2 separate regions of the Homo sapiens genome follow, and region 2 is linked to region 1. Evidence: fine-mapped expression QTL. A gene starts in region 1. The other region holds a variant in brackets. All regions are shown on one strand. Distances are between the middles of the regions.

Region 1 (2,920 bases):
AAACCACCTCCACAAGAAGCCATAGTGGGTGGGATTTGATTCTGCAAGAACCTAAAGCAAAATAAAGCAATAAGTGAAATTCATTCCATTACACAAGTTCTACACCTATTTACATTCCCCCTTTTCCTCTAAAGTCTACACAATTTGTTTTAAATAAGTCACTGTTGGACCCTGAAATGCTGGGTATTCAGTACAGGTCTCTACACATAACAGAGACTCAGTAACTCTTAAGTCATGGGATACAAGTTATTTGCAAATTGGCTATTTCAAACGCTAGGCTACCAAATAAGCACAAATTATTCGTTTGTTTTTTACCCAGTTGTCCCTAAAACCTTTCCAAGAATTAATACCTTACCTTGACCACATGCTGAAGAGCGGGTCTCACTGCTGTCATTAAACTGTCCTGTGCTACCACCTCAAAGATGGATGGCTGGTCATCGGCCACAGAAGCAGCTGTGAAGTGAGCCCCGTGCTCAGCCATAGTTTCCTGCGTGTACTGGCTTTCACTTTTCCCACAAACTCTCTCGTGAGCATGAACTTTTTCGGGAGGAAGAGTATCAGATGGGTGCTCAGTCTTAAAGGTAAACTTTCTGCATGATATCTGAAACTCGAAACTCAATCTTATGGGCAAAAATGAACTGGGAAAAAAAGACCTGGAGGCCGAGGGTAGTCTCAAGAAGGTTAAGAACAAAGTTAACTCGGACGTGGGTGGAAGTAGTATGTGGCGAGGGGGTAACTTGTCAAATGCTGCACGTCAGGGCAGAGCGTGACTGTGGGGGACAGGTATGGGGGAAGGAACGCAATCCTCTGGAGCTGCGAACCAGAAACGCCCCCTCCTCCCCAATCGTGAGAGCTCAAAAGCCAGCCGACTCTGAGGATTCAGTCGTGCCACTGTGAGCCCGGGACACAAGGGCTGACTCCAGCTGTTGGCTTTGAGTATCCCCGCCCGCGCCCGTCCTTGCTCGCTGACCCCAGGCGAGGCGCAAACAACCCACGACGCCACGTTTGAAGGGAGGTCTCCGCTTTATGACAGAAGCCGCACCCGGAAATGAAACCACCAGGACCTCTGGGATGCCTGGCGGAAGAGAGGCGCTCTAGTTCCGAATGCGGTCCGGAAACCAGAACTAGAGAACTCTATGACCCACCTGAGCTTCCGCTCCCGCCCCGCTGAAACAGAAGAGGGCCCTTGTGGGCTGGTTTTGGCTAGTTTGGTTTACTTTTCGTAGCTGGGTCTGCATGGTAGCCTCGCTGGAAAGCTACAGCTCTGAACCTCTCTCTGCGAGGTCTTTTTGACAAGCTGTTTGGGGCACCGCGCAGACGTCTGGCGCCGGGAGCCAGAGCTCGGGCCCGTTGCTGAGCCCTGTGTTCCTGCAGGCGATGAAGCTAGGGGCGGTGGGAGGAAGGGAATCTGGAGGTGGAAAGGACTTTGCTGTACGCGTGCGGCAGGGATGGTGGTTAATTTATATGTCTTAGCCTTCCAGAAATGATTTAAAGCGACATAGCAGGAGATAGGAGCCTTAGATTTATTGCCGCCAATTATAAGGAAAGATGATTGGATTGAGAAAGGTTCATGCTTGTTCCTCAGTACTTGAGACGGTTAATTTTCATCCAAGCTGGTAGTTTAACGTCTTCCAGGTTTTGGCTATATTCAAGCATAACTGCATGCACTTGCTATACTGGATGAAAATGGTCTCCATCCTTGAACACAGTTGTATATGTCACCACCAGCGATATGAATACAGTACTAACGCAGAGGGAGCTTTATGAATTGTAACTAGCATGCACTGGGGACACTTGACAGAAAGTTTCCTTTCATGCCGTTTTTATACCAAAATGAATGTGATTTACCTTAAGGTTTGTAAAGTGCTTTTATGTTATGTACAGCTTTGTCTCGCTGAAGTTGGCTGACACAGCCTTATTGAATTTGGATGAGAGTTCCACCTCTCCTCCCTTCCTCTGGGAAGTGCCACCTCTGGGCTAAATAGCTGGGAATAGAAGGTATTGTTTACTGCCCTAGAGGCCCTTATGTTATAAAAATAATTGGTTTGCATAATGAGAACCCTCAAAAACAAGGTTTGGATTTAGTTATTCCAATAGGAGAGAAAACCTTACAAATTGTCCTTAATTATAGTTATAAAAAGTGTTTTTTACTCTACCAAAAGACATTATATTGATATATGATTTTTACCTTACAGAGTTTTAAGACTAGACATAGTTTATCCATATGAAGCACCTGGATACATATTAGGTGCTTGTTTAATAGTAACTGTTATGTACAAGCTTTTCTTAAGTGAATAGCAAAAATACAAAGTTGAGAGGTAGCATCAACTAAATCAAGCAGGAAATTAAACATTTTTGTCACTTAGGGATCTTTGGTTACAAGCAACAGAAACAAACAGGCTAATTTAAACTAAAACGGAATTTATTAGAAGTGTATGGAGTAGCTCACAAAATAAGTAAAGCCAGCCCTGAAAGAACAGGAACTTAACAATACTATTGGGACTGCCTAACAGGAATTAGAAGTTCTTATCCAGGCAACGTTGTTGCAGTGAACGAGCTTCCACCAATTTCTGTTTGTGACTCTGCTCGTGATACAAATTTTGACTGACCTCTCTTGGTTCAAGTTCCCTCTCCACCCTGTCTTTCACTCTTAGCCAGGGGAAGGCAGGATGTCTTGATTGATAGTCCCATGGAAGTACTCCAAAAGTTAACTAAACGTATGGCATAAGAACGCCTATAATCCCAGCACTTTGGGAGGCCGAGGCGGGTGGATCACCTGAGGTCAAGAGGTCATGACCAGCCTGACCAACATGGAGAAACCCAGTCTGTACTAGAAATACAAAAAATTAGCTGGGTGTGGTGGCACATACCTGTAATCCCAGCTACTCGGGAGGCTGAGGCAGGAGAATCGCTTGAACCC
Region 2 (2,920 bases), 21 kb after region 1:
TCCTTAACACCATGTGCTAAAAAAGAGCAGTTTCACTTAGGAATGTCCTTCATGAGCAGTAAAAATTTGTTTTATTAAAACTTGAACCTTTTTAATATTGTGTTTGATGAAATAGGGATTACCCATAAATCTCTTCTGCTGCGTAGCAGTGCAATGGTCGACTTGAGAAAAAACCCTTGTGCAGTTGTTTGAACTGCAAACACCATTTTTATGTGAAAGAATGATTGACAGACAAACTATATTTAATCAGACTTTGGTATTTGGGAGATATTTTATTCAAAAATGAACAAAGTGAACCTGTCACTTCAAGGGAAAAAAATTGACAATGGATACGTTTCAGGTTTTAAAGTAAAAAATTAGAATTTTGGAAAATTTGTATCTCCCATCATAAGCTTGACAGCTTCCTAATGCTTAAAGACTTTTCTGAGGAGATTGGTGGTGAAATTAATGATTGTGATTATTTGCTGTTTTATAATGAAATGTGTCAGCATAGCTCAGTGAACCAATATTTTTCCAAATGACCAGAGCATATGTATATCACAAAATTATGCATGGATAAAAGATCTATTCGAAATAAAGTGTGGAGGCCAGGCGTGGTGGCTCACGGTTGTGATCCCAGTATTTTGGGAGGCCGAGGCAGGCGGATCACTTGAGGGCAGGAGTTCGAGACTAGGCTAGCCAACATGGTGAAATTCTGTCTCTACTAAAAAAAAATACAAAAAAATTAGCCGGGCATGGTGGCATGTGCCTGTAATCCCAGCTACTCTAGAGGCTGAGGCAGTAGAATTGCTTGAACTCAGGAGGCGGAGGTTGCAGTGAGCCAGGATTGTGCCACTGCACTCCAGCTTAGGCAACAGAGTAAGACTCTGTCTCAAAAATCAAAAAACAAAAAAACAAAATAGAATGTAAATGAATGGATTTTAATACAATCAAGTACAAAAAGTTTATCGATACGGCTTCAGATTCTATATTGCAACTAACTTTTAAGAAACTACAGTGTGTGGACTCAGAAAGAGGAAAACAACCATTTGTCTAGTTTTATTTATTTATCATTATTTTTTTTGAGACAG[A/G]GTCTTACTCTGTCACCCATACTGGAGTGTAGTGACGTTATCTTGGCTCACTGCAACCTCCGCCTCCCAGGCTCAAGCGGTTCTCCTGCCTCAGCCTCCCAAGTAGCTGGGATTACAGGCGTGCACCACTACCACCCGGCTAATTTTTGTATTTTTAGTAGAGACGGGGTTTCACCATGTTGGCCAGGCTGGTCTCGAACTCCTGACCTCAAATGATCTACCTGCCTTGGCCTCACAAAACTGCTGGGATTACAGGCATGAGCCACTGTTCCCGGGCTGTCTAGTTTTAGTGTAACATCAAGAATTTCTAGTTATAACAAAAAAAAAAAGAAAATAAGGAATATGTAGTTATATGAAAAAGCTATTAAAATATTATTTCCTTTTCCGAGTTATATACGTGTATGAAGCTGGATTTTCTTCTTATATTTCAAAACAACATTCTACAAAAGGTTGAATGCAGGAACTTATGAGAATCTAGCTGTTTTTATTTCAAGTAGATATTAAAGAGAGTTGCAAAAAAATAAAAAAGCAGTGTCACCATCTCATTAATTTAAAAACAGTACATTTTACCTTTAAAATGTTATGAAATGGGTTTATTCTTATTTTAATGGATTAACTTTTTAAAAATTTCTCAGTTTTAATTCCTGACATGGTAAAATATCAATAGGTATATAACCCACATGAACAAAAACTCTTTGGGATGTCAGTAATTTTTAAGAGTATGAAGGGATCCCGAGACCAAAAAGGTGAGGGCTGCTTCCCTAACCAGACGGGGAGCCCAGATAGAAATGGCAGCGTAGGAAATGACTCTGTATCTTCTCTTGCTCCAGGTGCTGCTCTTCTGAGGTGAATTTTTGTTATTTTTCTTTTGTTTGTTAGCACATAAAGCACATTTGGTTTTTAAATTGCTGTCCTGTGACCATCTATCTAAGGAGTTGGCAAACGTTTTTGTAAAGGACAAAATAGTAAGTACATCAGGCTGGCATAGTAAGTACTCTTTGCTTAGCAGGCAAAGAGGCAAAATTGAGTTTGGTAGGTAGGTACTTACATAACAAGAGAGAAGACAAATTTCCACAAATTTTTTATTGAGGATATTCAAAATAAAATAATAGTTAAGTATAATGTTTTGTACCACAGGTATACTATTAAGTGGGATTCTTTTTGGGGGATGATAACATTTTGCGTAATTAGGATTCATAGTATTTTTCATCATCAGATTTGTTTTATTTATTTATTGTTTTGAGATGGAGTCTTGCTCCATCACTCAGGCTGGAGTGCAGTGGCGCAATCTCGGCCCACTGCAGCCTCTGCCTCCCGGGTTCAAGGGATTCTCCTGCCTCAGCCTCCTGAGTAGCTGGTACTGTATATGCACCTGCCATCACTCCTGGCTGACGCCAAGTGATCCGCCTGCCTTGGCCCCCCGAAGTGTTGGGATTACAGGCATGAGCCACCATGCCCGGCCAAGATTCATATAGATGAACACTTAGTTCATCTATAAAAACCACTTTTAGCTCATGGATTGTACAAAAATCCAGCATTGGGCTAGATTTAACCCACAGGCGGTAGTTGCCTATCTGTGATCTGTCTAGTCACTGAAGGGCTGTTTTTGCCAAAGAATAAATCTGGATTGAAAACATCAGTACAAACGAATTGGTAAAAATTGTCATAACTCTTTTTTTTTTTTTTTTGAGACCGAGTTTTGCTCTTGTTGCCCAGGCTGCAGCGCAATGGCGTGATCTTGGCTCACTGCAACCCCCGACTCCCGGGTTCAAGTGATTATCCTGCCTCTGTCTCCCGAGTAGCTGGGATTACAGGCATGTGCCACCACGCCCGGCTAATTTTGTATTTTT

The links. PIP is the estimated chance that this variant, and not a neighbour inherited with it, causes the effect. A credible set is the group of variants that fine-mapping cannot tell apart.
Region 2: its variant is the best candidate, but not a certain one, in a credible set for the expression of PEX12 in lung (TOPMed, PIP 0.81).

Annotation. Positions count from the first base shown.
Region 1 is chr17:35,577,541-35,580,460 of GRCh38, forward strand. It overlaps PEX12 (peroxisomal biogenesis factor 12), which reads right to left and starts at 1,031. Exons shown (of 3, transcript NM_000286.3): 1 at 356-1,031; 2 at 1-51. The coding sequence starts at 481. RefSeq lists an enhancer at 295-1,110.
Region 2 is chr17:35,599,037-35,601,956 of GRCh38, forward strand. All of the region lies in intron 3 of AP2B1 (adaptor related protein complex 2 subunit beta 1), which reads left to right. Among named protein-coding and RNA genes, the nearest start is that of AP2B1, 13 kb to the left of the region's middle. The variant A/G (reference allele first, on the strand shown) is at 1,071.